Homo sapiens: one gene and its partners. The protein of the gene in region 3 purifies or fractionates together with the protein of the main gene of each other region. This does not show direct contact. Each region holds a gene or a part of one and is shown on either strand. Other genes may lie near its edges. The genes, in order: NIPSNAP1, AIFM1, ITFG1, PCMT1, RFC3, HNRNPR and LMAN2L.

Region 1 (3,500 bases), on a different chromosome or scaffold from region 3:
CCCAAAGTGCTGGGAGTACAGGCATGAGCCACAGTGCCTGGACTATTCACTTTTCTATTTTGGCATAGATGTCACCTCCTCCTGGAAGGCTGCCGAGATTTCCTCCACGCGGGCTGGGTCAGGCACCTTCCTTAGCTCTCCAGGCCTCAGTAATTACCTCCTCACGCCCTGATCATGTACCCCTATAGCTGCCTGTTTAGTTGTCTGTCTCCATATATGGGTGAATCCCCAATATGCAGCACATATTTGTGGAATAAATAGGAGTTCTTCTTGTCTGAGCTGGTGTCTTACAGTCCCAGGGGCACCCCTAGCATGCCCCATCCCAGCCTAATAGACACATCAAAGTTGGCACCAGCTATAAGAACCCACACATGAATTTGGCTGACTCACAGCATCTCAGCCACTCAAAGGGACCTCAAATTCAGACCCACACTGTCCAAAATGATAGCCACTAACCACATGTAGTTATTTATTTATTTATTTTTTTGAGATGGAGCCTCGCTCTGTACTGTCACCCAGGCTGGGGTACAGTGGTGCAATCTTGGCTCACTGCAACCTCTGCCTCCTGGGTTCAAGTGATTCTCCTGCCTCAGCCTCCTGAGTAGCTGAGGTTACAGGCGTGTGCCACCACACTTGGCTAATTTTTGTATTTTTAGTAGAAACAGGGTTTCACCATGTTGGTCAGGCTGGTCTTGAACTCCTGACCTCATGATCCTCCCGCCTGAGCCTCCCAAAGTGTTGGGATTACAGGCATCAGCCACTGCGCCTGGCCTATTTATTTATTTTTTTGAGACAGCGTCTCACTCTGGTTTCCCAGGCTGGACTGCAGTGGTGCAATCACAGCTCACTGCACCCTTGACCTCCCGGGCTCAGATGATTCTCTCACCTCAGCCTCCCAAGTAGCTGGAACTACAGGTGTGCACCACCACAGCCAGCTAATTTTTTATATTTTTAGTAGAGACAGGGTTTCGCTATGTTGCCCAGGCTGGTCTTGAACTCCTGGACTCAAGCAATCCGTCAGCCTTGGCCTCCTGGACTACTGAGATTACAGGTGTGAGCCACTGCGCCCTGGCCTCACATGTAGCTATTGAAATTTATATTAGTTAAAATTACATAAAATTTAAAGTTCAAGCTGTGTGCCAAGGTGCTCACCTGTAGTCCTAGCTACTTGGGAGGCTGAGTTGGGAGGACTGCTTGAGCCCAGGAGTTCGAGGCCGTGATTGAATACCATCACACCTATGAATAGCCACTGCACTCCAGCCTGGGCAACACAGTGAGGACCCTGTCTCTAAAAAAGAAAAAATTCAGGACTGAATATGGTGGCTTATGCTTATAATCCCAGCAGATTAGGAGGCTGAGGTGGGAGGAACACTTGAGGCCAGGAGTTTGAAACCAGCCTGGGCAACATAGTGAGACTTTGCTTCTATAAAGAAAATACATATTAAAAAAAAAAGAAGAAAAGATTTTAAAAAGAAAAAATTCAGTTTCTTAGTCATACTAGCTACATTTCAAATGCTCACTCATATACACACAGGCTCATGCAGAAAGTACTTTTGGACAGTACTGGTTTAGAGTGTCTGCATAGCACAGCCATAACAGATGGTCCTCTAAACTTCCCTTGAACACTCCTAGCCATGAAGAGTTCACTTGTAAGCCAATCTATTTCATCCTTTGACAGCCCTGATAATCGTGTCTTTGAAAATAATCTGTGACCTGCAGATAGATAGGTGTATCTCCTTAATCAATTATTTGGTTTCCGTAACAGACATTAACATATTATTTATGTTTTATTTTTATTATTTCCATTTAGAAACAGGGTCTCACTATATTGCCCAGGCTGGAGTTGAATTTCTGGGCTCGGGCAATCCTCCTGAGTAGCTGGGACTACAGGCGTGTGCCATCATACCTGGCTAGACACTGATATGTGGCTAAGGGAATAAGAGAAAAGCAAATTGCCTTCAGTTTCAGCCACTACAGCTTTCCCATTTTAAGCTTGACTTGATCAGCTCCAGCAGTATTCCTTGAATTCTCTTAAGCATTTGCTAGTTGTGAAATGAACTCTGAGGGATGGGATCCTGACTTTTTCTTTTTTTTCTTTTTCGAGACCGAGTCTCACTCTGTTGCCCAGGCTGGAGTGCAGTGGCGTGATCTCAGCTCACTGCAACCTCTGCCTCCCGGATTCAAGCAAGTTCTCTTGCCTCAGGCTCCCGAGTAGCTGGGACTACAAGTATGAACCACCATGCCTGGCTAATTTTTGTATTTTTAGTAGAGATGGAGTTTCACCATCTTGGCCAGGCTGGTCTCGAACTCCTGACCACAGTTGATCCACCTGCCTCGGCCTCCCAAAGTGCTGGGATTAAAGGCGTGAGCCACTGCCCCTGGCCTTTTTCTTCTTTTTATTTTTCTGTTTGGGACAGGGTCTCGCTCTGTCACCCAGTTTGGAGTGCAGTGGCATGATCATAGTTCACTGTAACCTTGAACTCCTAGGCTCAGGCGATCCTCTCACCTCAACTTCTCGAGTAGCTGGGACCACAGACATGCACCACCATGCCTGGGCTAGTTGTTTTGTTTTGTTTGTTTGTTTGTTTTGTAGAGATGAGGTCTTGCTATGTTGCCCAGGCTGATCTCAGACTCCTGAGCTCAAGTGCTCCTCTCCTGCCTCAGCCTCCCAGAGTGTTGGGATTACAGGCCTGAGCCACTGCGCCTGGCTGATCCTGACTTTTTAAAGCATACCCTACATTTTTTGTACCTTGAAGTTCAGTCCCTCACATAGTCAGCTGAATCATGTTGAGCTGTACGCTGGGAGTAGGGTTCAAGAATCTACATTTTAATAAACTTGTAAGAACCATTGATCCATCTCCTATGGAGAGCACCACAGTTGTTAGACAATTCCTTCTTCTTGGCTGGGCGCGGTGGCTCATGCCTGTATCCCAGCACTTTGGGAGGCTGAGGCAGGTGCATCACCTGAGGTCAGGAGTTCAAGACCAGCCTGGCTAACAAGGTGAAACCCTGTCTCTACTAAAAATACAAAAATTAGCTGGGCGTGGTGGCATGCGCCTGTAATCCCAGCTACTTGGGAGGCATAGGCAGGACAGTCTCTTAAATCCAGGAGGTGGATGTTGCAGTGAGCTGAGATCACGCCACCGCACTCCAGCCTGGGTGACAGAAAAATAAAGAAAATTCCTTCCTCTTGCCAATGATGCTGTCCTTGTAACTTTTCTCCGTTAATCCGTTTTCCACAGGTCATTCCTGGTTTTGGTAGATTTCTATCCATACAGTACTTTTGCCATTTCCTTTGGGAAAAAGACCTTTAAACCATAGGGTCAGGCCATTTTGCAGATGGGAAAATCAAGGCACAGATGGAGTCAAAAAACAGGTGAAGGTCAGGCTGGGGATGGGGATGGGAAGTTACAGAGTCTGAGTTTCTAGACTGCTGGCAGCCAGCTGCCCTTAGCTCTAGCTTGCCTGTGTGATCCCCTGGGGACCTTCCTCCGCTGATG
Region 2 (2,990 bases), on a different chromosome or scaffold from region 3:
TAGCACATATTCTCCATGACACTGCATTTTTTTTTTTTTGAGACGGAGTTTCACTCGTTGCCCAGGCTGGAGTGCAATGGGTGCGAACTCAGTTCATTGCAACCTCTCCCTCCTGGGTTCAAGTGATTCTCCAGCCTCAGCCTCCTGAGTAGCTGGGATTACAGGCACCCACTACCACCCTGGCTAATTTTTGTATTTTTAGTAGAGACGGGGTTTTACCATGTTGGCCAGGCTGGTCTTGAACTCCTGACCTCAAGTAATCTGCCCGCCTTGGCCTCCCAAAGTGCAGGGATTACAGATGTGAGCCACCGCACCCGACCAACACCGCACTCTTATGCCAACCAAAGAACTTAGTATGCAGATCACGAGAGATGCCAACTGATCTGCTGTTGCTAGAGCATCTAGGGATGACCATGAGAAAGTAAGATTAACCCTAATAGCTTTGACTTTTCCTTAAAAAGCCATTATACACGACCACATATCCATGCGGTGATTGAAACGTTCTTGAATTTATTCGTGCTTTTATCCCATGCCACATTTGGAAAGTGATGAGGTTCCCACTTTTGCTATTCACTACTTTTGTCTTGAAATTCCCTTTTTGAAGCTTTAAAGAGTGTTCCACATTTATGGAATTCAGAATTTGAGATGTTTTATGGCTTCATTAACCTACAGTATTTCCCCTTAGCCTCCACTTTTCTTTTTTTTAACTTTTAAAAACTTTTTATTTAAAAAATTCAGACGAGCTCTTGCTATGTTGTCCAGGTTGGTCTCGAACTTCTGGGCTCAAGCAATCCCCCGGCCTTGGCCTCCCAAAGTGCTGGGATTAGAGGCATGAGCAACCATACCAGACCAGCCTTCATCTTTTAGGACTGGAATGCTTTCTGACACTCCTTTTTTTTTTTTTTTTTTTTTTGAGACGGAGTCTCGCTCTGTCACCCAGGCCGGAGTGCAGTGGTGTGATCTCGGCTCACTGCAACCTCCACCTCCTGGGTCCAAGCAATTCTCCTGCCTCAGCCTACCGAGTAGCTGGGATTACAGGCATGCACCACCACGTCCAGCTAATTTTTGTATTTTTAGTAGAGACGGGGTTTCACCATGTTGGTCAGGCTGGTCTCAAACTCCTGGCCTCGTGATCCGCCCACCTCGGCCTCTGACCTATTTTGCCGGAAGTGCTGGTGCCATCTCCATTCATTCACCTAGTCTAACATACGCCAGACAGAACACTTAAAATAATTTTTTTCTCTTTTAATGTTTTACAAAAGGATCAGTTTGGTGAAAAACTAAACAGGACACTTCTGCCAGATGGCTACCTGAGGGTAGAATGTGTGGACATAAGATGGACTTTTTTCCCTTCTGTATGAAGCTAACTGGCTCATAATAAAACCAAACCATAACTCTGTGTTATGGTCCTAGAGATACTGAGTTGTAATCAGTTGGGTCTCCAAGGCACACCACTATTACCAGAACATTGACTGATGCCAGTACGGCTTAGCAGCTCCAGTCATATTTTCTCCAGCCAATCTTCCACTCACAACAGCGTGATCATGGTGCTCTACCCGCCTCCTTCCCAACTTTATATCGTAGAAGCATGCAGCATCTCCTGCCTGTGGAAACAAATACATAACATGAACACATGATAAAAAAAAAAAAAGCAAGTTAAAGACAAAATATAAACTTTGGGGGCTCAAAGAACACTTGTAATGGTAACTAATTCATGTTTTCCATCTACAGGCCAGAGTTGTACTTAAACTAACAAAAACAGCTGATAACCCATTTAAATTTTTTTTTTTTCTTTTAGACAGGGTCTCACTCTATTGCCTGGGCTGGAGTGCAGTGGTGCGATCATGGCTCACCACAGCCTGGACCTCCAGGCTCAGATGATCCTCCCGCCTCAGCCTCCCAAGTAGCTGGGACTACAGGAATGCACCACCATGCCTGGCTAAATTTTTTTTTTTTTTTTGGTAGAGATGGGGTGTTGCCATGTTGCGCAGGCTGGTTTTGAACTCCTGGGCTCAAGCAATGTGCCTGCCTCAGCCTTCCAAAGTGCTGGGATTACAGGCATGAGTCACCACGCCTGGCCTGAGATCTCATTTTAAAACATCTATTCCAGGCCAGGTGCAGTGGCAAATGCCCGTAATCCCAGCACTTTGGGAGACCAAGGTGGGTGGATCACAAGGAGTTCGAGACAAGCCTGGCCAATATGGTGAAACCCCATCTCTACTAAAAATACAAAAAATTAGGCGTGTGTGGTGGCAAGCGCCTGTAATCCCAGCTACTTGGGAGGCTGAGACAGGAGAATGGCTTGAACCCAGGAGGCGGAGGTTGCAGTGAGCTGAGATCGTGCCACTGAACTCCAGACTGGGAAACAGAGCGAGACACCGCCTCAAAAAAAAAAAGAAAAAAAAATCTATTCTGCTTCCATAAAGCTAACCTAAATCTTCTATAGTTTTGTTTACTTATGTCTACTTCCTGTTCTTTCCTTAACAGACAGGATATTTAATAACCATGATTTGCAGAATATTCTTTTCTATATGTAGAAACCAGTTTTTGGATGTGACTGCCTCTCACCTAGAAATGTTTTCTTAGATTTCTTTTTGTCACTCAGTATTCATTCATTCGACAAATATTTATGGAGTACTTATTATATACAAAAGTATTATGTTGTCCGGGTTGCTGAGACAAAACTGACATGGACCTTGACTATGAGGAGCATACAACCTAGTACAGAAAGATACAGCCTTGCTCACAACTACAGAGCAATGTAAACAGTAGTGTGCCATATGAGAGGTACAGATTAAAGGAGTCAAGTATTTCAAGCAGAGGGCGAGAACCTCCAGCCGGGGGTGAACTGGACCAGCTTCATGAAGGATGTGGCATTTGAGCTCTCTAACCCTTTGTTCATCTTTGTGGCTATTTAGACTCCCCCAAAGCAACCTAAAAATCCAACGAGTGAGCAACCGTAAACTGTGAAATTCGCTTAATGGAATATA
Region 3 (3,500 bases):
AGAACTTCTTACAGAGGCAGAGTCCATAGGCAAGTGATGAAATCTTGTAGGTTAAGTAAGAGAGATGAAGCTTTAGAATGCTGGTTTTGAGGTGCTGTAAGTCATCTAGGTTGAGCTATCATGGTGACAGTTGGAAATGGGGAAGGACCTTTAGAGATGAGAGCTGGGGATATCTGAAGCCATGATTTTAGATGAAATTGGCAGGGAAAGTGTTGAAAGAAGAGGGCCAGGGGCAGACACTGGGGAAAGCCTGCATTGAGAAAATGGTAGAAGGAGCCAGCCTGCTTAAGTAAAAAAGTGGTTAAAGAGGTTCTACCTCTTTGAGATACCACAGTGCCACAGGAGATACAGTATATATATAGTCAAATATATACTTGTACTTAAAACTTTCATTTTTGGCCACTGCATAATTATTGTTATAAGCACGCAATGTTTATGCTGTAATCAGATCTACTGAGGAATTAATGAAATTCATTTCCTTTGCTTCACAGGTCAAGAACTGTGGAATCTTTCAGATGATATTCTGATACTTCTGGACCAAGTATGTATGGTTGTCCTTGATCTTACTCTTAAGTTGCAATCTTAAGGTTAATTGAATATGTAACTTCATGTTACTGTTTTTGATATGTAAAGGAGTGATTTTTTAAAAGTGACAAGCCTATGAGCATTTATAGAACAACTAATATGTTCTTTTTCATATGTTAAAAGAACAAACACGGTAATTCTAGCAAAAAATGATTATGATGGCATGTCAATCCAGAGTGTAGGTGCAAAAAAAGAAAAACACCTTTCTTTGGGGCCACAAAGCAGCCCTTTTTTGAGGGCATTGATTGGAACCCATATATAAATAGAAACTAGCTTTTTCACATATATCTAAACTGCTAATTTACAGTGATAGCCTCTTTTTTCTTTGCATAAAAATCTTTTACATATTTGGGAGTTTTGTTTTCAATTATTATTTAGAGTATTATACTAAAGAACAGAAATCAGTTTAATGCAAAGAATACTTGATAGATGAAAAAGATGTTTATGGCTTTTTTCTTTTTTTGAGACAGGGTCTCACTCCTTTTGCCCAGGCTGGAGTGAAGTGGTACAATCGCAGCTCACTGTACCCTCAACTTTCTGGGCTCAGGTGATTCTCCGACCTCAGCCTCCTGAGTAGCTGAGATTACAGGCTTGCATCATGGTGCCTGGCTAATTTTTGTGTATTCTGTAGAGACGGGGTTTCATCATGTTGCCCAGGATGGTCTCAAACTCCTGAGCTCCAGCAATCTGTCCACCTTGGCCTCCCAAAGTGCTGGGATTACAGGCATGAGCCACCATGCCTGGCTGTTTATTGCTTCAGTTGTTACCTTCCACCTAAACCTCAAGAAAATAATTTAACCTCTTTTCACTCTAATTCTTTTCAAAGAGATAGCTGATAATCCTAGCCAAAGAATGTCCATGGCTTTATCAGTACATACTGAACACACGTTCATTTTTTAAAATCATTATTATTTTTCAGGTCATTATGAAATTGTTTCTAAATGCCTTTTGATTTCCGGTTGATCACTTTATTACTACCGTACTGCATCAAACTTTTAAAGTAGACATCTCTTGTGATTTGTATGAATTGATAGGAGACATTAGTAACTTCCAGGGATAAAAGAAATTATCATCAATAAAATGATGCTTTGAACAGAACTTGAAAAATGATGAAATTCTAGTCATATGAAAAAAGTTTAAAATAAATATAGTGTTTTTAAAGAGCAATGTATGTATTACTAGAATAAATTAACCAAAATTAATGCTTCCTTTAAATGAACAAACCTTTTCCTGCCAATGTAAAATGCCAATTATTGCCAAGATGAAAACACAGACACCGATGAGAGCTATAGCAGTAAGCAGAACAATATTACTTGGTGTAAGATACAGTTTGGCACTCCAACTGTAGATAAAAACAGAACAAATTAAAATTACAAATTTTATTTAAAAATAACAAAGTTATATTGAGACCCCAAAGCAAAATAGCTTATTAATTAAACAGTCAATGTATTCATTAAACCATTCATTCATCAGTCCATTCATTATAAATAAAACAAAAACAATTAAAAATCAGATAGTGCTGAGAATATTGATGATTCTGCAGTTTATATTTTACCTAGACAACTGAAATAGAATTTTTGATGAGATATTTCAATATTTTTCATTTTCCAAGTTTGATCCTATGAGAATTATTTTTAGGTAAACATATCCAAGGGTACTTTGGATAATCATAGACATCTTTTTTACATCTTGATTTACCTGCTTAATTTGAAAACCTGAACTCTAAAGCAAGGTAGTCACATGATCCTAGAAGCCTTCTGTATCATCTTATTTTTGACCTGTGTCACATATATAATGTGACCAAGTAAAACATAAATGTTGATGGCTTGTGCAAAACTTCTATAATTTTTATATCATGTTGGAGTGTTTACATTACTACAATGACTTTTAGGTTCAGATCACTTACAAAATCATCTTTAGTCCCTCACTGTTAATGGCAATATACAGACTAGAGGTCTTTAGTAAACAGAACTAGTTCTTTCCTTCTAAAACAGTCCATGTAATATAGCATTTGCACACCCTGAAAGCCTAAAACTAAGGACTGTATCACCAAGTGTGAAGGTTGTTATATACACATAACTTTTTGTTCTTCCTAGAAATAGGTAATGGCTATATTTTTATTTTAAAAGTTTAATAAAGGTAAGACTGTTCTGGTAAATAGCAAGTAGCTATTGATTTATTCTGGGATAATTAAAATTTATTGATCCATAAGTTAGCTTCTAGTCAATAACCTCAAAATACACCTCAAAAACTAAAATCAATTTGGTTTTTATTATGTACATAAATTTGAAAAGAACATTTCTTTGGAAAGAGTAAGAGAAACATGAAAAATGTTGAGATTACGGAAAAAAGCTATGGTATAATTTTCTGGAAATTCAGAAGAGTAAGTAAACCTTAAGAAAACAAATACTGTTAATTAGTTGAAAGCTACTCTTAGTGTTATACTCATACTTAAGAAAACAGTTCTTTTATGAGATGTTTTTGGTAGTTCTACTTTTAAAATAGATTTTTAACAAATCAGGAATGTAAGTGTTTTGGTAAAAAAAAAAAAAAAAAAAGACAAAAGTCAATCCTCAGTTTTCTCCTCAGAGGCAGTCACTCTTACCAGTTTCCTGCATATCCTTTCAGAGATATTTTATACATGTATGAACATGTATGTATAGATGGCTTCTTTTTAAATCACAATGGCTGCTTATTATACATACTCTTCTACATTTTGCTGTTGCTTCTTTTGTTTGTTGTTGTTGTTATTGTTTTTTGCTTACCACTCCATCTTAAGAGACTGTTCTATGTCCGTGGCAGTGAAAAAAAATCATGCTACTGAGCTGTATAGAAGTACCGTACTTTATATAGTTTCCTACTCATGGTCCAGATTTTCTAGTTTTACTGTAAATTTCATCTATAGAAAACTAACA
Region 4 (3,500 bases), on a different chromosome or scaffold from region 3:
AGAATGAGCCTGGTTTCTAAACATTCCTGCAGATTTACCAGGATGAAGGTAAAACTTCTGCATTAGAAAAAGTGCTCTTAGAAAAATAATGCCTTGTTATACTTCTGCCTTTTCTCATCAGAGTCTTATCTGGTCAATGGCTATCCAGAGTATTAACTGGGGACCCACTAATATATGTTGGAGTAAAGGTTGATCATTGCTTAGATCATCACATCAGTTTGATTTGAGAAATATCGTGCCTGGAGGACAGATTGGAATATTCTGATCTAGTTAAATTGGGAGTTGTGGATCCACCTTGGACTAGAATCCATGTAACTTGCTATAAATGTATAATCAGCAGACTTACTAGAATGTAAGCTCCAGGGAGTTGGAAATTTTGTCTGCTCTTTTTTATCATGATGGTATCCTAAACATCTAAAACAATGCCTGGCACATAATAAGGACTCATATTTTCTCAGATGTTTTGCTCATTTTGTAGAGGTTAAGTCCTCATTAATGGATATCAGTGATTTTTTTTAAGGTTAGAAATGCCATTTAATAAATGACTCATTCTCTATACTTGACATGTTTATAGTTTTAGAGGATGTATTCATTTTAAAAAATCATTTGGTTTCTGAGTTGTTTTTCATAAAATGGCATTAATGTTTTTCACACATTTACCATGTGTGAAAGTACTTTGTGTTTTAAGCACTAGAGCCTGTGTTCTAAGTGCTACCCCATTTTTATGATGGGGTTTATGCCTTTTTCCTCCCCATTTTGTACTGAGGAACCTGATTCATACAAGGAATGATAGGCCGGGTGTGGTGGCTCACGCCTGTAATCCCAGCACTTTGGGAGGCCGAGGCAGGTGGATCACCTGAGGTCTGGAGTTCGAGACCAGCCTGGCCAACATGGTGAAACCCCGTCTCCACTAAAAATACAAAAATTAGCTGGGTGTGGTGGCACACGCCTGTAATCCCAGCTATTTGGGAGGCTGAGGCAGGAGAATTGCTTGAGCCCGGGAGACAGAGGTTGCAGTGAGCTGAGATCACGCCACTGTACTCCAGCCTGGCCAACAAAGCGAGACTTTATCTCAAAAAAAAAAGAAGGAACGGTTAACTTGCCAAGGTATGTATGTATGTAAGTGATGACACTTAGACAAGAACCCAGATAGTTTGACTTCAAAGCCTTTATGTGTTAATTTTTTAAATTTTTATATTTTTTCTTGAAACATTTATACTTAATATTTTAATTTACAAATAAATATGCAAAGAAGGGATTTTTGTTGTTGTTGCTTTTTGTTTGTTTTCTGAGACAGGGTCTCAGTCTGTCATCCAGGCTGGAGTGCAGTGGCACGATCTCAACTCACTGCAGCCTCTGCCTCCCAGGCTCAAGTGATCCTCACACCACATCAGCCTCCTAAGTAGCTGGGACTTAGGAGGCACATGCTACCACACCTGGCTAGTTTTTGTATTCTTTTGTAGAGATGGGGTTTTGCCATGTTGCTCAGGCTGGTCTCAAACTCCTGGGCTCAAGCAGTCTACCTGCCTCTGCCTCCCAAAGTGCTGGGATTATAGGTGTGAGCCACTGTATATATTTTCATGTTTTCTACTAAAAGCAGTAGAAACAAGTGTAGAAATTCCTTCCCATCAGGCGGGAGGCAGGGTGTGTGGTGGCTCAGTCCTGTAATCCCAGCACTCTGGGAGGCCAAGGCGGGCAGATCACGAGGTCAGGAATTTGAGACCAGCCTGACCAACGTGGTGAAACCCTGTCTCTACTAAAAATACAAAAAAATTAGCTGGGCATGGTGGCGGGGGCCTGTAGTCCCAGCTACTCAGGAGGCTGAGGCAGGAGAATTGCTTGAACCTGGGAGGCAGAGGTTGCAGTGAGCTGAGATCGTGCCACTGTACTCCAGCCTGGGTGACAGAGCGAGACTCTCTCTCAAAAAAAAAAAAAAAGAAATTCCTCCCTGTCAAATTCTTTATGTAACATTTTAATATTTAAAGTTATACTTTAGATGGAATTTAAATAAAAAATTATTGTACTACTATTAAATATTGGTAATTTTCTTCAAAGTTCTAGATTTAATCTAAGAAAGATATAATTTTTCTTAGTATTACAAGTTTTATTCAATGAGAGTGATAGTTGAGAAAGTTGTATATATGGTAAATAATTTATGATAAACTGAGTGTTTAGCAATCTATAGAAGCCTTAAGCTATTTTTGTTTTCTCTTTGTAGAATATGACTTTCGATAAGGAAAAACTTCAATAATACTTTAGAAAAACAAATTTAGCCCAATGAGCTACTGAATTGTTTTCTCTTTTCCAGGTTGGATGTACTGGAAAAGTCATAGGAATTGATCACATTAAAGAGCTAGTAGATGACTCAGTAAATAATGTCAGGAAGGACGATCCAACACTTCTGTCTTCAGGGAGAGTACAGCTTGTTGGTAAGTATCAGAAAACTTTAAAAATTTCTTCAGAGGATTTTTATTTTCAGAAGATCCAATGCAAGCTAAATAATACTCAGAGGTAATTATTGTATTTTTTTTTACAATCACTTTTAAGTACTAAAAAATAAAAACGATTATTTTTGCTCACCTAGTGTGTATTTTGCAGCCATCTCTTTGTGAGTTTAATTTTGTATTTTCCTATTAACCTCTGAGATTGAATTTTTTGTAATGTGTCTGACCATTAGGATTTTGTCTTTTGTGAAGTACCTGTTCAGATATTGGATTGCTTGTATTTTTGACTTACAGGGCTTCTAGCCCTTTGTCTATATATATAAATACATTTCTTCTCCCATCTGAGGTGTGCCTTTTCATCTTATTGGTACCCTTTTGATAATAGAAATTCTTAATTTTAATGTAGTCAGACTTACCAATTTTTTTCAGTGCTTTCTGTGTCCTTTTTAAGGATACTCTGAGACCATGAAGATATGTCTCTTATTATTTCTTAGAACCTTTATCATTTTTAGCTTTTCATGTTTAGGTTTTTGATCTTCCTGATGTTGGTTTTTGTGTATGTGTGAGGTAAAGGTGCAGTTATATGTTTTTGTGTATGAATATCCAGTTGTATTCCCCAGACACACTCAGTTTTGTTTAAAAGATAAAATATTGGCCAGGAGCGGTGGCTCACACCTGTAATCCCAGCACTTTGGGAGGCTGAGGTGGGCAGATCATGAGGTCAAGAGTTTGAGACCAGCCTGACCAACATGGTGAAACTCCGTCTCTACTAAAAATACAAAAATAAGCTGGGCGTGGTGGCGCACGCCTGTAGTCCTAGCTACTCGGGAGGCTGAGGCAGGAGAATCGCTTGAACCCGAGAGGTGGAGGTTGCAGTAAGCTGAGATCGCACCACTGAACTACAGTCTGGCGACAGAGCTAGAGTCCGTCTCAAAAAAACAAATAAAATAAAATAAAGGCCCGGGCAGCTCTAGTAGCCACAGCCATCCCCTAGAGGGATCTGGCTGAGGAGGAAGTGGAGGTGTTGCTTGCCTTGGCCTTTGCCCTGATCCTGTG
Region 5 (3,500 bases), on a different chromosome or scaffold from region 3:
CATACAACACAAAGCTAGAGATAATGTGCGTAGCTTTCTAGTAAAGGACAATGTAAAACTTTGTAATCAATGATGCATCATGTGCTAGAAAGACACCAGACTATAAGTCAGACTTCTAGTTCTTGTCCTGAACTCCTAGCTAAGTGTTCTTGATCAGGTAACTTCATTTTAGAGTTTTATCTTCATTTGTATATTGAAGATATTATTATTGCCTCACCAAGGGTACTTTTGCATTTGTTGTGAAGAGCAAAAGAGTTATTAATGGTTTGAAAACTAAAAAACCCTGTGCTTATAGATGACCATGCGTTCTACTAAGGATAGCATTGTGTATATACCATTTTTACTCAGGAAGTATTTTTTGACACATTTGCTCAAAATTGCTTCCGTTACTTCTGTAGGTCTATTATTTGTAGGTTGACCATTCTGAAAATACCTCAGCTGCTAGTTGTTTGACTTATGGCAGCTTCGATTGAGAAACACAGTTTGCTTTCCTCCAAATAAAAAATGACAATGTTAAGGCCCACTAACTTTGGAGAGTATGAAGAAGGTTCCTCAGACTTGGCTAAAGCACAGTCTCATATCCTTGTTGGGTTTCTGAACTGAGAAATGATCTTTGGACCTTACAGAGGGTAGTTGATCATTTTAGGGTTCAGAATAAACTGAGTTCAGTCTATAGACTGAATAGACTGCAGCCAATAGAGCTTACTCTTCCTTGGTCTAATGAAAATAATAGAGGAATATGCCATGTTTCTCCTTTTGTTGATACATCTGATGAATTCTAATTTTTTAAGAAATTCTTCAAAGGTATTGTAACATGTATTCCCTGGTTACCATATAGATTGGTGGAGGTGGATAGTGGATCATACATAGTGGGTACTTAGTATTTCATTTAAGGTTTGCTTTGAATTCTCAGAATTCAATTATTTTAGTTGAAGAAATCGATAGTTTTCTCCAAGAAGTACCAAATGTTATAAGTAGTCTCATTAGAAAAGAAACTTCATCTTTAGGAAAAATATGTTCATTTTATTTTGTAAAATGTTGATTATCAATAAAGAGACCTCACCCTTTAAAGAGATAAAATTCAAATAAAGCATGTCTTAGGTGCCTTTTACTTTTATAAAATATTTCTACACTGAAGATGACTTTCTTGTTTTTGTTCTGATATTAAAGAAGAAAAATTGATAGCAATATAACTTACCTACTTTTAGGGGATTTAGGTACTTGAGGTTGTAATGTTTGATAATTATCACGTGCTTTTATAAAACTACTTGATTATTCCTTTGCTTAATTCTTCTAGCTGCTGTTACAAATTTCTTCTGGTTTTCCTAACACATTTTGACGGCTTATAAATGAACTTGTGCAGGAAGCGGTGCTCCTGTTTCCTGTTTAAACCAACAATTGTAGGAATTGATTCCATTGTGCTACATAAAAAGAAATTTTGCTCAATTCCAGAAAGCCTTGGGGCTGGCCAGAAATCCTGGAAGTCTGGTATCTTTCTGATCACTGGGCTACACAATTCCAAATGATTACTTCTGATTTCTGACTCCTTTGTCTTGCTGGAATATTTGTGGTCTCGATTTTTCATTTGATCTGTCTTAGAACAGTCATAATTTTCTAATTTGAATAGCAGCGAATATTTCATGAATGATTATGTCAGCTCTTACACCGTGTTATTTAATTGATATAACACACCTATGAGAAAAATATTAACTTTTTAGATTAAAAAAAAAACCCTGACATTTATGGAGATTAGGTACCTTGTTCAGGTACATTCCATTATTATAATAGAGACAGTTCTAGGATACCCATGTTTCTCTGACAGAAGAGTTTGTACTCTTAATCACTTGTAAGCTATTAGGAAATAATGACACAGACATGGTAAATGTAGAATATGTTAATTTTGTAAAACAGTAATGTTAGAAGTTAACTCAAGACTAACACAAGATGCATGTTAACATGTATGCACTACACACAGTATAGTTACTTCAATTGTATAGGTAACTACATCCTGAATCAACTTTTCAGAAGTAAGCTATATACATATATTAAAATAATTTCATACCATATGAAATTATTTTTATTATTCATGCTTTAATAATCAAGTTTTATTCTTGGGATGTCAGAGAAATCACAGGCTTTTGAGTCAGGCCTGAATTCAAATGCTGGCTCAAATACACAAGTCTTGATGGAAGCCTGACCTGTCTGAACTTCAGGTTTGTTTCAGTAAAAGAGCATCATTGTTGTGGGGAATTAATAGTGTATTGCAGCGAACCTAGTACAGAATTAAGGTGTTAAATACTTTCACAGACATTGGAAAGGGTGTGGACTTTGGAGTAAGAAAGATAGATCTGTGTTAAATCATGCTTTGCTGTGGTCAGTTCTGTCAGTTACTTAAACCATCTGGGCCTTAGTTTTTTCATCTGAAATAAATGGGCTAGTGTAAGTACTGAGTTAAATTATTTGTTTCAATTCTTACACATAGCAGATGCCCCAGAAATGCTAGTTCTTTTTTTTTTTCCCCCACTTTTTTTAAGATTTAATGTGCCAGGGCTTCATATTCCTGACGTCTTAGGATTGACTTCTGCTTTTTAAGAATTCTTATAAATCACTACCTGGATTTATCTGAAGTATGGAACATCTGTACTGTGTGTATATATATATATATATATATATATATATATATCTGTACTGTAAAAATTCAGAAGTTTTTCCCTTTAAGAATGTGTATTTGGAACTTTCTCTCTTTTTTTTTTTTTTCTGTTTTAAAACGTCATATGTACATTTCCCTCCTCTTCCCCTTTCTCTCCCTAGAATATGAGAAGGGCCTAGAATGAAGGACTCAGAGGTTTGAATGTTCCTATTCGCTTAGCCTGGTTGCGTGCTTACCTGTAAACCTTTGTGCCGCCCCTTTTATGACAGGGACAGCTCTGTATCCCTGCCACATTGCTTTTTTACTGTGCAATCTAGGCAGTGGCATTGTATTATATTTCATGCGTATATTATCTTGTGTCACCTATGTAATTGACTTTTTAATCTTTTCATGACCATTTCCTGGATGTTTCAGGTATCTGTCTGGAGAAAAGAAAAACATATTACTTGACATGTCATTAAAGTTTGTTAAATTCCATGGTGTGAATAAGCTCAACCCGCGCTCTTCATGAAGTCTCAATTTCTATCTGGTATTTTCATGGTGTTTTGATATAATTAGGAACCCTGAATATAGACGTCTCATTTTAAAAGAGTTCTGAAAATGTTCTGTTTCAAAAATGAACTGAAGTTAGGAGAAGCCTCCATATGTTTATCCTAAGTATGGTAAACTATTTAAGAAACAGTTATTATTTCTTACTGGATTGTTTGTTAATTCATAAAGTTAGGTCATAAAGTTGTTAATTCTGTATTGGATTGTTTGTTAATTCATAAAGTAAAACCATACAGTGGGAATTTGGAAAAATTACCTCTTATTTTCTTCACAAAATACCAATTATTTTGTTTTATGTAGG
Region 6 (3,500 bases), on a different chromosome or scaffold from region 3:
ATACTTCCAAGGCATCATGCTATCGAATCTTACAAAACAATACAGAGATTAAAAATAACTTGCCTAAGATCACAAACTCAGTAATAACCTGGCTTTGAAATATGGAGTCTTATCTGTTACATACTATTACCACTTTACAGAGATTAAATAGAAAGAGTTCAGCAAAAGCTGACAACCAATATTGTTTCAGTTTTTAAAGTTACTTTGTGTTTGGCAAGTTTCAAAAACAAAATTCAAATATCAAGAACCAAAATTTCAAAATTCCTACCTTAACAGCTGCTCCTCTGTCTTCAAAATGAACAAATGCATAATCTTTCAACTTCTTTACTCTTTCGAGTTTTCCAAATTCAGAAAATGACTTTTCCAATATTTCTTCTGTCACCGTAGTAGCCAAGTTTCTCACAAACAAAACTTTTACCTAGTAAGCAACAAATAAACAAAACCGTCATTGGCTACTTAATTTTACCTGAAAAGTGTTTCTTCCTGTCTTCATAGCATAGCTTTTCTCCTCTAAAACATTAAGTGCTAAAAGTGTTGTTACAGGTAGTAAGAGAAATTGCTAGGAAAATGACACTGATATCAGTCACCAATTTACAAAAATTATTGGTTCCTGCCTTCTCCTATGTTGTCATTAAAGCACCTAACACTGAGTAGAACCTTCAAGGAACCAACACATAATTATTATTACCAAGTTAATCAACAAAAAGTCCCTTTCAAAACAAGTTTTTCTGTTTCTTTCCTCTAAAACTGAGTAACTTTCAAAAGTTCATATGAAAAAATAAATAAGCAAGAATAACCAGGAAAAAAAAGAGTGAAATTTAGAGGCTGGCCCTACCAAATATAAACAAACTATAATGCTTAAATCATTAAATCAGGTAGTGTTAAATTAGAAAAAAAGGAGAAAAGCTGGTCCATGCCTTACACTATACACAAGGATAAACTCCAAATAGATTGAAAATTTAAATAATAAAAGGGTGGAGGGAGGACTGTGAAATTTTAGAACAAGAATGATTCCTTTATATAACACTGGAGTGGGGATGACCTTATGACTTAAAATCTAGGAGCCATAAGAATGTTATACTCAACTACTAAAAATAAATGACTTCTATATGGCAAAAAAATACTATAAGCAAAGACAATAAATATGGATGAAAAATTTGCAACATGTATCACAAACAGCTAATCTCTCTTTTATATCAGAGCACCAGAAAATAACAAAAAGCTCAACAACTGAATAGAAAAATAGGCAAAATTCCTGAATACATGGTTCATACACAGAAACACATATGGCTCTTAAAATATATTTAAAGTTCAAACCATTCATAGTAAGAGAAGCAAATCATTAATCATTAATGGCACTGAGACATTTGTTATCAGGCTGGCAAAATTCAAAAGTTTGATTATACACTATTTTGTCAAGAATGAGGAAAATAATTCTCTTGTATTTTGCTGGTAGGAATGTAAAATAGTGTATCTCCTACAGAAAGGAATATGGCAGTATCTTAACAATTACAGATATATCTACCCTTTGGCCCACAATTCTACCCCTAAGAATCTATCCTACAGATATATCTCCACTTGTATCAACTAACATAAGCTTATTCCTTCCAGCACTGTAAGAGCAAAAGATTAGAAACAATATCCAGCTGGTTAAATACACTATAGTACCTCCACAGAATAGACTACTATGTAGTCATAAAAAATGAAGAAGAGGGCTGGGCGCGGTGGCTCACGCCTGTAATCCCAGCACTTTGGGAGGCCGAGGTGGGCAGATCACCTGAGGTTGGGAGTTCAAGACCAGCCTGGCCAGCATGGTGAAACCCTGTCTCTACTAAAAATACAAAAATTAGCCGGGCGTGGTAGGAGGCACCTATAACCCCAGCTACTCGGGAAGCTGAGGCAGGAGAATCACTTGAACCCGGGAGGCAGAGGCTGCAGTGAGCCAAGATTACACCACTGCACTCCAGCCTGGGTGACAGAGCAAGGCTCCGTCTCAAAAAAAAAAAAAAAAAAAAAAAAAACAAAAACCCAAAAAATGAAGAGGAGCTCTATGAGTTGTAGGATAGGACAACTTACAGTCAATGTGATAAGCAAGTACTGTGCCATAGTTTAGTTGGCAGTGTTTTTTAACTATTTAGTAGTACATATAGTAATGATGTATTTCCTCAGAGCTGATGAAACAGGATGGTGAATAAACAAAAGGTAGATCAGTGGATATGGTAGGCTACCAACATTACTACCACTCATCTAAGAATTAAGGAAGTATATCCATATTTGCCGAAGGAAATACTAAAAGGAAACCAGCAACTATTAAAACTGGATGCCTTATAGGAGACAAAGGGGATTTGGTAGACACAGGGATAGGGGTAGAAAGGAAATTTCTTTGTCTATACTTTTCTATATAACTTTTGAACTAAGAAAACATAGTACCTATCCAAATAAAAAACTAACATATTGAACAAATTGTTGCTTCAGATAAAGGGCTATCTAATAAGAAGATACTAATTTAAGGAGGAAAAAAACTAACATTTTCCACAAACGCTCCATCCCCTTTATTATTCTCAATTTGTCATACTAAGGTCCAGCCTCTATGTTACACAGACTCCCACTGGTTTAGTTGCTTTTTAAAAAAAATTCAACATGGACTTTTCTATGATGAAACGATAACATACTATGTGAAAATTACTTACTGAAATTGTGTTTAAAATGTTCAACAGGAAAAAGGGTCCCTTTAAGAGACATATATTTAGGCTTTTAGGTTATGGTACATTGTAAAACTGACCCAACTTGGCAAAAAAAATCTTCAGTGAATTGTAAATTGATAGTGTGAATAACAGAAGCTTTACTCAAATGGATAAACTTTTCTTTTCAATTAGGAAACAATAAAGGAGCTGGATGGGGTTGCAAGCACCCGGGAGGCTGAAGCAGGAGGGACGCTTAAGCCCAGGAGTTCAAGGCTGCAGTGTGCTATGACTGCACATGTGGGCAGCTACTGCACTCCAGCCTGGGCAACATGAGACCCCATCTTTTAAAAAAAAGAAACAATAAAGGGCTCCATAATATTTAATCCTAAGTTTATAGAGACCTCCTTTTCATTCTGAAACCTGTTTTAGATCTAGGAAAAAGGAGTTACCAGAATGAAATCTTGAAGTTTTCTAACCCTAAAAAAAGATTAGGATGAACTTCCATCTGAGCAGTTACTAAAGGTTATGTGAGAAGTGGCTGGTAAGCAAATTACAAGCTATACTTTTGGTTTTCATGGGATTTTATTCCTCTTTTATAATATTTTATTCCTCTATTATAATACATCTATAATACTATTTTAAAATATTTTTACAGAAAAAGTAATACAGGCTATACTTAGTTACTACAGGTAGATTCAAAGTTGTGGTGGATCTTAGAGATTGATCCAGGCTCAATAAAATAGATGACATTCATGTTCAGTAGTTTACCCAAAGTCATAGTTGTATTAGGAGAAGAAACAATAGGAATTAAAATCA
Region 7 (3,636 bases), on a different chromosome or scaffold from region 3:
TGCCCCTCCCCTCTGATGAGACCCCTTCCACCTGCACTGCTGCCTTGGCCATCTCAAGAGCCCACCTAGGTCCTCCCACGGGTCCATACAATCTCCCCTTCAACTCAAAAAAGACAAAACCACCATTTTCTTTTTCAGTTCTCCCTGCTCCAAGGCCAAGCTCTAGGTCAGTTTGTCCTCTGGCACCCTGGAGCCATTCTACTATTGTGGAGGGGAGGTGGGAGGAAGATGCCTCCACCTGAATCCCACCTGCAGGAGAGCACTATAGCCTGTGCTGTTTAAGTGCATGGGAAGGAAAGAAAGCCTGAAGAGACAGAGACCTCTGCCTAGCCAAGGTGACCCCCTTTCCTTCTGAGCTGAGCTGAGGGCTTTTCCAACCCAGGAGAAGGCAAAACAACGGTTGATGGGCTTGAAGCTCAAAAAAAAGGCCTGCTCAGAATAAAGGCCTGAACTTTCCCCAAACCCACTCCTAGAAGAAAGAACACAGTCAGAAGCTCATGTTTGGTTCCATCGGTGATTTTAAGAATTTCATTTAGGCTACAGAGGTTCATAGGAGGACTCAGAGTTCCAGGCCCTCCAAGGAGACTCTGGCCTGTAACTGATTTAATCCCAGGGCAGTAAGGTGAGCAGCATGTAACCCCTTGTCAAATAAGGCAGTGGAATAAGGGTTGACAGAGGCCAGCACTCAGGCTGTGCTGCTCAATGACAGTGAACTCTTCCAGGCACAGATGATGAGGGTCTGTTGCTCTCAGACTTGGAACATGAGAACAGCAACTGTCTCTTGTCCATTAAGAAAAAAAAAGCCAAATTTCTTCTCTGGGCAATATCCAAGCCCAAGGTGTAAGAAGAAAGCTTCCTTACACTTTCAGCACTCAAAGTGGGATTCCAAAAATCGTAACTACAAAACATGCAGCTAAGCAGGCTCTAGCAAGTCCAGAAACATCTCCACATGGTCAGACCACATGACAAATGTTGCTTTTGGTTTGATCAAACCTGGAGCTGGTCAGTTGCACAGCTAATCCATGGCATCCATGATGTCTTCCAGGCTTCTCTTGATTTTTACACCAACCTTTAGCCAAACTTCACTGAGGGCCTGAAGAGACTTGATTGGGAAGGCCATGGACATGCCAATAGACCCAAGACCCATGCTAGGGAACAGTGATCCAAAGCAGAAAGCCATCTCCCTAGGGCCACCTAATGAAGGCCAGTGAAACGCAGGTGTGTTCTGCAGCCCCAGGCCCCAACAGAGAGGCATCCAAATGCCTTTCCCAGCTCAGGTTGCACACAGAGAGGACAATGAATGGAGTGAAAGGAAGGTAAGGCAGGGAAGAAGTTTCCATCCTGGTTTCCAAAGAAAGCTCCTCAGGTAGGCAGAGGGTTGGGTCAAATGCAAAACCCAACGAATGGATGGTCAGAAAGCCTGTGGTGTTACCAGTTTTTAATTCTTTGTGGATTCAAAACTGAAGTAGAAGGGCCTTCTGAGTCAAACAACACGGCAGCCTGGGCTATGAAATTCTGTTCTGTGATTTTGGCATCACAACCACGTAAATTCTCTTCACACCTCTGCTCCCACATGGAAGGACTGCAGGGAAAGGCACATCACAGCAGCATTGCCCTGGGGTGGGTGGCTTCCCAGACCAGAGTTAGATGTCCCCATGCACAACCATGGGAATGCGGGGTCCCTGCATTCAAAACTCCAGTGACAGAATATAGTCCCCAACCAGCTGCTAGAGACAAGAACACTCTCCAGGCTGCATGCTCAGGCCAGTGCCTGCTCCTTCCATACCTCATGGGTGACAGTCACAAAAGTGGTGGCAGCAGGAGGGCTCAGTAGAAGCGCTTTCGGCTCTGTTCCTGCCATTTGTTGTAGAGTATGATACCAATGACTATGGCAAATACAGAAAACACCAGGGAGAAAAAGACGATGAGGAAGAGGGCCAGGCCACTCAGGGGCGGCAGTGGAGCTGTCACTGAGGAAGCAAGAGAGAAGCAAGTCAGAAAACAGGGAGCCCACCCAATAGGGAAGGATCAAACTATAGGCTGTCCGGCCCCCAGTTTCTGACACCTACTTCTGGGAAGCCAGAGCTTAGACCCCCTCTTTCCAACTGAGAAACAAAGCGGCCCTCCTGCTGCTCATCTGTAACTTGAAGGGGAAAGGCAGATGAAAGTGCTCCCTACCCTTCAGAAGAAGAACACAGAGCAGAGACCGCCCTGTGAGCTATGGGTACAGCACTGCAAGCTCCTCCCCAACTATGGGACCATTTCCCGCGGGCCCCTGTGCTCACTCTCAGGCAGCTTCATATTGTCCACTGAGGGCAAGAACACATCTCGATGGAGCTTTTCCTCTTCTGGGGTTCTCTCCACTGTCAGTTCAAACAACTTCAAGGAAATGACATCATGATTATCTGAAGAAAAATGGAAGAAGGATGACTTGTGCCACTTGAAAAAGAGGTATGTTTCTTGAAGTCAGTATCTTAGTTCAAGCCTCTGATCCACAGCTAACCAGCAGTGACCTTGAAAAAATAATTGAAACCTCTCCATTTTGCAACTAAAAATAAGGATGGGGAACAAGGCATATTCTATATCTTCTGTATTTAAGTTTTTATCAACAAGCATGCATTACCTGTATAGAAGATCGCTGACTTAAAATGGTTCGACTTACAATTTTCCAACTTTATGATGGTGTGAAAGTAATCTGCGCTTAGCAGAAACCATACTTCAAAATTTGAGTTTTGATCTTTTCCCAGGCTAGCGATGTGTAGTACAACACTCTGTACTGAGGCTGGGCAGCAGCAGTGAGCTGTAGCTCCCAGTGAGCCACACAATCACAAGGGTAAACAACCAGTACTGCATCGTGTACTGTATTCCATACGTTACATCAGACATTCAACACTTTGTTACAGAATAGGCTTTGTGTTAGATGATTTTGCCCAACTGTAGGCTAATGTAAATGTTCTAAGCACATTTAAGGTAGACTAGGCTAAGCTATGATGTTCAGTAGGGTAGGTGTATTGAATGCATTTTCAACTTACAATATCTACAACCTACAATGAGTTTATTGGGACATAACGCCATTGTATGTCAAGACGCATCTGTATAATTAAAAAATTTGGAGATAAAACCACAATTAAATCCCATATGTTAAACCTTCCAGCACAGTAAGAACAGACAAAGTAGGACTGCAGCTTCCCCGCTGGTGAAGACCACACACGTGCACACACACACACGTACAACAGGAAAAGGTCTCATGGCCGCTGTTTAATGGGCCATGGGCAGGGCACAGCTATGGGCATGGGATACACTGCCCTTCTAGACTATGCCTGTTTCTCTGTGGCTTCTTGTACTTGTGACTCTTAATCTCCCTAATAATTACCAGAGAGAAGATCAAGCAATTAGGGACTAGATTTCTCTCTTTAAAGTATCATTATAAACTCCTACATTTAACCATATCTGATGTGTTGCAATGCACTGAAGTTAGACTTTTTTTTTTTTTTTTTTTTTTTGAGACAGAGTTTTGCTCTTGTTGCCCAGGCTGGAGTGCAATGGCACGATCTCGGCTCACTGCAACCTCTGCCTCCCAGGTTCAAGCAATTCCCCTGCCTCAGCCTCCCAAGTAGCTGGGATTACAGGCATGCA

Evidence for each region.
Region 1: the proteins of ITFG1 (region 3) and NIPSNAP1 purify together in Homo sapiens (affinity purification with mass spectrometry, with the first as the bait; one large-scale study listed by BioGRID). This does not show direct contact.
Region 2: the proteins of ITFG1 (region 3) and AIFM1 purify together in Homo sapiens (affinity purification with mass spectrometry, with the first as the bait; one large-scale study listed by BioGRID). This does not show direct contact.
Region 4: the proteins of ITFG1 (region 3) and PCMT1 purify together in Homo sapiens (affinity purification with mass spectrometry, with the first as the bait; one large-scale study listed by BioGRID). This does not show direct contact.
Region 5: the proteins of ITFG1 (region 3) and RFC3 purify together in Homo sapiens (affinity purification with mass spectrometry, with the first as the bait; one large-scale study listed by BioGRID). This does not show direct contact.
Region 6: the proteins of ITFG1 (region 3) and HNRNPR purify together in Homo sapiens (affinity purification with mass spectrometry, with the first as the bait; one large-scale study listed by BioGRID). This does not show direct contact.
Region 7: the proteins of ITFG1 (region 3) and LMAN2L purify together in Homo sapiens (affinity purification with mass spectrometry; 2 studies listed by BioGRID and IntAct, with this or other methods). This does not show direct contact.

What each region holds. Positions count from the first base shown.
Region 1 is NC_000022.11:29,564,114-29,567,613, reverse strand, and holds part of NIPSNAP1 (protein NipSnap homolog 1), read left to right. Parts: intron 1-3,500.
Region 2 is NC_000023.11:130,131,852-130,134,841, forward strand, and holds part of AIFM1 (apoptosis-inducing factor 1, mitochondrial isoform AIF precursor), read right to left. Parts: intron 1,605-2,990; coding exon 1,462-1,604; intron 1-1,461. UniProt on the Homo sapiens protein: Functions both as NADH oxidoreductase and as regulator of apoptosis.
Region 3 is NC_000016.10:47,157,064-47,160,563, forward strand, and holds part of ITFG1 (T-cell immunomodulatory protein isoform 1 precursor), read right to left. Parts: intron 1,928-3,500; coding exon 1,810-1,927; intron 542-1,809; exon of another isoform or gene 492-541; intron 1-491. UniProt on the Homo sapiens protein: Modulator of T-cell function. Has a protective effect in graft versus host disease model.
Region 4 is NC_000006.12:149,791,241-149,794,740, forward strand, and holds part of PCMT1 (protein-L-isoaspartate(D-aspartate) O-methyltransferase), read left to right. Parts: intron 1-2,308; coding exon 2,309-2,429; intron 2,430-3,500. UniProt on the Homo sapiens protein: Initiates the repair of damaged proteins by catalyzing methyl esterification of L-isoaspartyl and D-aspartyl residues produced by spontaneous isomerization and racemization of L-aspartyl and L-asparaginyl residues in aging peptides and proteins.
Region 5 is NC_000013.11:33,831,649-33,835,148, forward strand, and holds part of RFC3 (replication factor C subunit 3), read left to right. Parts: intron 1-3,499; coding exon 3,500-3,500. UniProt on the Homo sapiens protein: Subunit of the replication factor C (RFC) complex which acts during elongation of primed DNA templates by DNA polymerases delta and epsilon, and is necessary for ATP-dependent loading of proliferating cell nuclear antigen (PCNA) onto primed DNA.
Region 6 is NC_000001.11:23,313,285-23,316,784, forward strand, and holds part of HNRNPR (heterogeneous nuclear ribonucleoprotein R), read right to left. Parts: intron 419-3,500; coding exon 269-418; intron 1-268. UniProt on the Homo sapiens protein: Component of ribonucleosomes, which are complexes of at least 20 other different heterogeneous nuclear ribonucleoproteins (hnRNP). hnRNP play an important role in processing of precursor mRNA in the nucleus.
Region 7 is NC_000002.12:96,705,429-96,709,064, forward strand, and holds the end of LMAN2L (VIP36-like protein isoform 2 precursor), read right to left. Parts: intron 2,406-3,636; coding exon 2,286-2,405; intron 1,971-2,285; coding exon 1,828-1,970; 3' UTR 501-1,827; downstream 1-500. UniProt on the Homo sapiens protein: May be involved in the regulation of export from the endoplasmic reticulum of a subset of glycoproteins. May function as a regulator of ERGIC-53.